Regions from separate parts of the Homo sapiens genome. Here region 2 is linked to region 1. Evidence: fine-mapped expression QTL. Tissue or cell type: whole blood. Region 1 holds a variant in brackets; the other region holds the start of a gene. All regions are shown on one strand. Distances are between the middles of the regions.

Region 1 (2,753 bases):
CTTCTCTGCCTCAGTTTCCTCAGCTTTAAAGTGGCGCGTGCTGGGAGGATAACATGAACGTCTGCATGCAAAACTGGGGGACAGAAAGCCAGGCAGCATGCACACAGCCAGTGGGGGTGGTGGCATCAGGGCAGGGACTTACCCTCGGACTGGGATGGACCTCGTTGGCACCAACCTCTTCTGCAGGGGCAGCTGCACCGTGTTCGAGTCGTTTGTGACCTCCCAGGGCTGCAGGGGCTCAGGGTCGGGCTCTGTCAGCCACGACAACCTGCAACAGCACTTGGAATGTCAACATGGCCACCATCCACCAGCCTCCTGAAGTAACTCTCACTCATCTGGAACTTTCCATCTGCTAGGCACTGTTCTAAGTGCTTCACAAATATTAGCCCATATGTCAGCTGACAAGCATGCTGTGAGGCAGGTGTTACCCACACTTTACAGACAAGGAAACTGAGGCACAGAGGTTCCACAGCCAGGAGGTGGGAACTAAGCTGCAGCCTGCTCCAGAGCCTTGTCATGGCCACAGCAGCCAAACGGTGCAGAGCACTTGAGCCCCTGGGTGCTGGCCTCCCCTGGTTTCAACCTGAGGCCACTCTGTGTGGTGTGTACCTGCCACCTGGGCCTCATGTGATGGTGTCTGCGGTGGGGGACAGAATGGGGTGCAAGGTTATGGCTACAGTTTCCTGGGGCAAGGACAAGAACAGGTGCTCAGCTGGCCCGGCACAGGGACACAGCATGGAGCTCATCGTCCCCACCTCCCTCGAGCGTGGCTGCCCTGGTGGTCCCCCGTGGTCCCTGTGGGTAGCCCTGCCAAGCATCCAGGGCCACTGCTGGGCGCACAACACTTGCTTCTGGGGTGGGGGGTGAGCATGGAGTGGGAAGCTTGAGGTTGCACGGTGCCAAGCTGAGCCCCAGTGCCAGGTGCTGCCTGCTGTCCTGCGGGTGGGAGGCCAGCTGCCCTGCGCCCCAGGCATTGCTGGCAAGATTTCCCTTGCATTTGTTTTGCCTCTTTGGCCCGTGGCTCTGTCCTTATGTGAAGTGCCCTGTGGAGACTTGGCCCAGGCCCCCTCGGGCTGCCCGTTATCCTGGCTAGTTGCGAGTCCCAGGAGCTCACAAACAATGGGTGC[C/T]CAGCACACCAATTCCAACACAGCTCAGGAGGGGCAGTCGTCTGTGGCCATGCTCCTCGCGTGACTTGGGGAAGCAGCTGGCCTGGGCTCTGGGATGACCCAGGGAGGCCTGAGCCCACCCAGAGGCCCCTCGGCTTAGGCTGTGATGGGGGTAACGAAGGCGGACCCCAGACTGTCAGCTGGGCAAGGGCTGCTAAGGGTCTCCCTGTGGACAAAACCCCCTCCCAGCTGCAGCCCCACAGAATGCATTTGAGTTCCCAGGATGCTGGGGTGACCTGGGGGAGGCAGGGCTTGTCTCCAGAGGTGTCAGCCTCCCGCACCTGTACGGAAACTTCTTGGCAAAATTCTCCTGGGCCTGGATCCTCCACTTCTTACTCTGGTGAGACTTCTTGCAGGCACTGGAGTCCATCACTGAGTGGGTTAAGCTGAGGCACACCTCTCAGCCATGGCTGGAAGACAAGAGGAGGCGTCAGAGGGGGCAGGGGTGGTGGGGGGCAGAAGGCAGAGTGATGAGTACCCAGCAGGGCTGGGGGTGCCTGCGGGCCGCCAAATGACCTGCATCACTGCCCTGTGCATGCACCGCTGTGTTCAATTTTCTCCTGCGTGTAGCTTCCTGTGACCACCGTAATCAAGGTCCTCACCAGACGCTCTCCCCAAGGCTCTCTCACGCTTACCCCTCCACAGCCACGCCTGTCCACAGCCCGGTTCCCCAACCCTGGCAGCCACTGATCTGTCCTCATCATGGGGCAGCCATGTGATTTCAGGAGCGCTATGCGGAGGAACTGCACACGAGGTGTGTTTCTGAGACTGGCTCCTTCTCATCCATTTCTTCCAGATCAGCCCAAACTTCACCCACAGTCTGTCCCTCCTGCTGCTGAGCACTGTTCTAGGGTGCGGTTGTGCAGCTTCTCAGGCCTCCAGCTTGGGGCACTTACAAAGCCACTGTTAATATTCAGATGTAAGTTTTTGCATGAAAATAAGTCTTCATTTCTCTGAGATATATTGCTGGGTCATATGGTAAGTCCATTTCTAGTTTTCTGTTTGTTTGTTTTGAGACAAGGTCTTGATCTGCCGCCCAGGCTGGAGTGCCGTGGTTGATCACGGCTCACTGCTGCCTCAACCTCCTGGGTTCAAGTGATCCTGCCACCTCAGCCTCCCGAGTAGCTGGGAGCACAGGCATGTGCTACCATGCCCCACTAATTATATATTTTTGTAGAAATGGGGTCTAACTATATTGCCCAGGCTGTACATACATTTTTTGTTTGTTTTGTTTTTCTGTTGTTTTTTTTTTTTTTTTTTTGAGACGAAGTCTCGCTCTCGTCCCCAGGCTGGAGTGCAATGGCATGATCTTGGCTCACTGCAACCTCTGCCTCCCAGATTCAAGCAATTCTCCTGCCTCAGCCTCCCAAGTAGCTGGGATTACAGGCGCCTGCCACCACGCCTGGCTAATTTTTGTATTTTTAGTAGAGACGGGGTTTCACCATGTTGGCCAGGCTGGTCTCAAACTCCTGACCTCAGGTGATCCATCCGCCTCGGCCTCCCAAAGTGTTGGGATTACAGGCGTGAGCCACCGCGCCTGGCCCGGCTGTACATACATTTTAAAGCACCCCAGGTGAGCAGAGTTAG
Region 2 (2,753 bases), 29 kb before region 1:
AGGGAGAAATTTTTATTTCACCACTTTAACAGAAACCAGCCACTTGCCAGAAACAGGCAGTAACCATAAACAAATTAATTACTAATATCAAATACTTACCTGGCACTCACTGAGTGCCAGACACTGTTGCAAACATTTCCTGTATCTCATTTAATCTTCACAGCACTGAGGTTTAGGATTATCCCCCCGTACAGGAAAATGGGAAACAGAGAGGTGCAGTTAATTTCCTAATCTCCCACAGCAGTAAGCGGCACCAGGTGGGTTTGGAGTCACCACATTTTTCAAGAACAGTTTAACAACTGGAGCTTCGAGTGTGGAATAATAGACACTGGAGACTTGGAAGGGTAGGAGAGTGAGCGAGGTGGGAGGGATGAGGAATTACTTAATGGGTACAATGGACATTATTTAGGTGATGGTTACACGGAAAGCCCAGACCTCACCACTGCATATCTCCATGTAACAAACCTGCACTTGTGTCCCTTACATTTATACAAAAAACTCCAAAAAAAACCTACAGTGTAATGTAGTACCCTATCCCATGCACTCACACTGCTAAATGTTGTTTCCAACGCACTCATCCGCGCACCCAGTGCCAGCTGCACCCTCCCGTTCCCTGCTAGCCTGACTTCTGGGCAGCAAGACCCTGCGGTTAGACGTGGGCTCCTGCCCACAGGGCTAGCTGGATGTGTGTGTCTTTCAAAGGCTGGACTTTACTCTCACCTCGCCCCCTCCACCCCCCAACACACACACACACACACACACACACACACACACACACAGTCCCTGGCAAGTCCTCAGAGCTCACGTGGTGCCCAGAGAAGTTGTGGGTGACACGATGAGGCACAAGCTCCATTCCCCGGGGGATGTAAGCTGAGACCCTACCTCTCTGTGCAAAGGCTAGTGCCACCTGCATGAGCTAGATTCAGGCAGGACCTGGAGACCCTGGAGGAAAGCAAGGCTGCAGGGTAGCCTTGGGTCGGGGAGGGAGGGACACTCTTAGGCCTCTTACTGAGGGCGGGGGTCCCGGAGAGCCATGGACAGGGCAACGCTCTACTAGGCTCCTTGGTTCATCCCAGATCAGCCCTTGGGCCCCTGGCATCTAAGGCAGCAAAAAGGCAAGGGGACACCGCCCGGGGTGGGGCACGCCACCGCGACAATGCCTCTTGGCCTTGGGTGGATAATGGCACCCCTGGGCAAACCCTAGGGGCGGGGCCCAGAGGCGAGGGGCTTCCCCAATCAGTCTCCGCCCTAGCGCCCTGGACTTCGGCCCCATTCCATTGGGTGAGGGTGGGGGCACGAAAAGAGGAGCGGGCTTGCGGCCCCACCGTGTCCCGCCTCCTCAGTCCCCAGCGACTCGCAGGGGCTGGTGGGGCTGGGGTCCAGCTGCCGTGCTCCCCTGCCCTGCGCCGCGCCGCGCGTCTTGGTAGGCGCTGCGCTGCCGGGGCCGGGTCCTGGGCCAGTGCAACTCCGCCCCCAGCCGTATCCAGCGGACTGTCCTCCGCCGCGCGCCCGGCACAGCATGGGGAGGCGCTGCTGCCGGCGGCGCGTGCTGGCGGCCGCCTGTCTGGGCGCCGCGCTCCTGCTCCTATGCGCCGCGCCCCGCTCCCTGCGCCCGGGTGAGTGCCCGCCGGCCGAGCCGCGCACCCCCAACCAAACCTGGCTCCTCGCGCTTTCCACCGCGGCCTGACCCCTCGACAGCGCGGGGGACACCTGTTGTCTCCTTCCTGGCTGGGGCTAGGGGTGGCGGGCAGGGGCGCTGGTGAGGCACAGAAAGGCTCTAGACGCCCCCGCGAGCAAAGGCTCTTGCTCCTCCTCCGGAGTTACCTCCCCACTCCCAGAGCGGTGACTGTTTTGAGTCCCACAGCCGGTGCCTGGAGACCGGGGTCAGTTGTGGGGGGTAGAGGACAATTGGCCAATCCGGGAAGGCCATCTCCCTTACCTTCACCCCCTTCCCCTGCGCACCCCACGGCCCCTGGACATGAGCGCTGCTGGGCGCATGCGCATAGGAGGGGAAGCTTGGGCCACTCGGTCCGGTCCCTTGGTTGTCCTACTGTGCAGTGGGTGCCACTCCCTGCTCCACCCTGAAATCCACACTGGGTAGGGCTTGGGACTCCTGTGCACCCACTCGTGGTCTGGCTGGGGAAACTGAGGCAGTTAGTCATGACTCCGCAGAGCTGAGTGCCCTGGGCTCCACCGGTGCTGAGTCTTTGCTCTGAGTCTCTCCTCAGCTCATGTGAAGCCTCCCATCAACCCATTTCACACAATCTGAAGCGGGCCAGAGAGTGGGGAGACAGGTGTGGTGGCAACGTGCTGGCTATACAATCTACTTGGGACTGGAGGGGCCCAGCCAGCGCCCGGGTCTCCTGACCTCAGGGCTGTTTGCCTTTCCTTGTATGTGGTATGCGTGCTGGGTGGGACGACTCAGTCCGCCTCCCCACCCCCAGTGTGGGCTCTGAGAATCCTGGGCCCCACCCTTGGAACCTGGCAGACACAGTCCCAGGGAGTAAGTAACTAGGTCCAGGGTGGGCGGGGATGTTGGGCAGTGGGGGTGGGAGTGGCCCAAGACTTGAGGATATCAGGGCCTGGGGAGGCCTCTGCCCACTCCCCCTGACCCTCACACTGCCCCTTGCCCCTTGTGTGTCCAGACACAGCAGGTCAGACCTGGATGCCTCCCCAAGCCCATGGGATAGGGCTGGGGTGTCTCTTTCCAGCACCCCCACAACCCCTTCTGTGAGCTGTCTGGTGGTGTTGAG

The links. PIP is the estimated chance that this variant, and not a neighbour inherited with it, causes the effect.
Region 2: it holds the start of CHST13, and the variant in region 1 is fine-mapped to the expression of CHST13 in whole blood (TOPMed, PIP above 0.99).

What each region holds. Positions count from the first base shown.
Region 1 is chr3:126,551,855-126,554,607 of GRCh38, forward strand. It overlaps C3orf22 (chromosome 3 open reading frame 22), which reads right to left. Exons shown (of 4, transcript NM_152533.3): 2 at 1,448-1,576; 3 at 143-268. The coding sequence starts at 1,536. Among named protein-coding and RNA genes, the nearest start is that of C3orf22, 5.7 kb to the right of the region's middle. The variant C/T (reference allele first, on the strand shown) is at 1,128.
Region 2 is chr3:126,522,814-126,525,566 of GRCh38, forward strand. CHST13 (carbohydrate sulfotransferase 13) reads left to right here and starts at 1,342. Exons shown (of 3, transcript NM_152889.3): 1 at 1,342-1,616. The coding sequence starts at 1,520. RefSeq lists enhancers at 666-1,166, 1,167-1,667, 1,728-2,228, 2,229-2,729.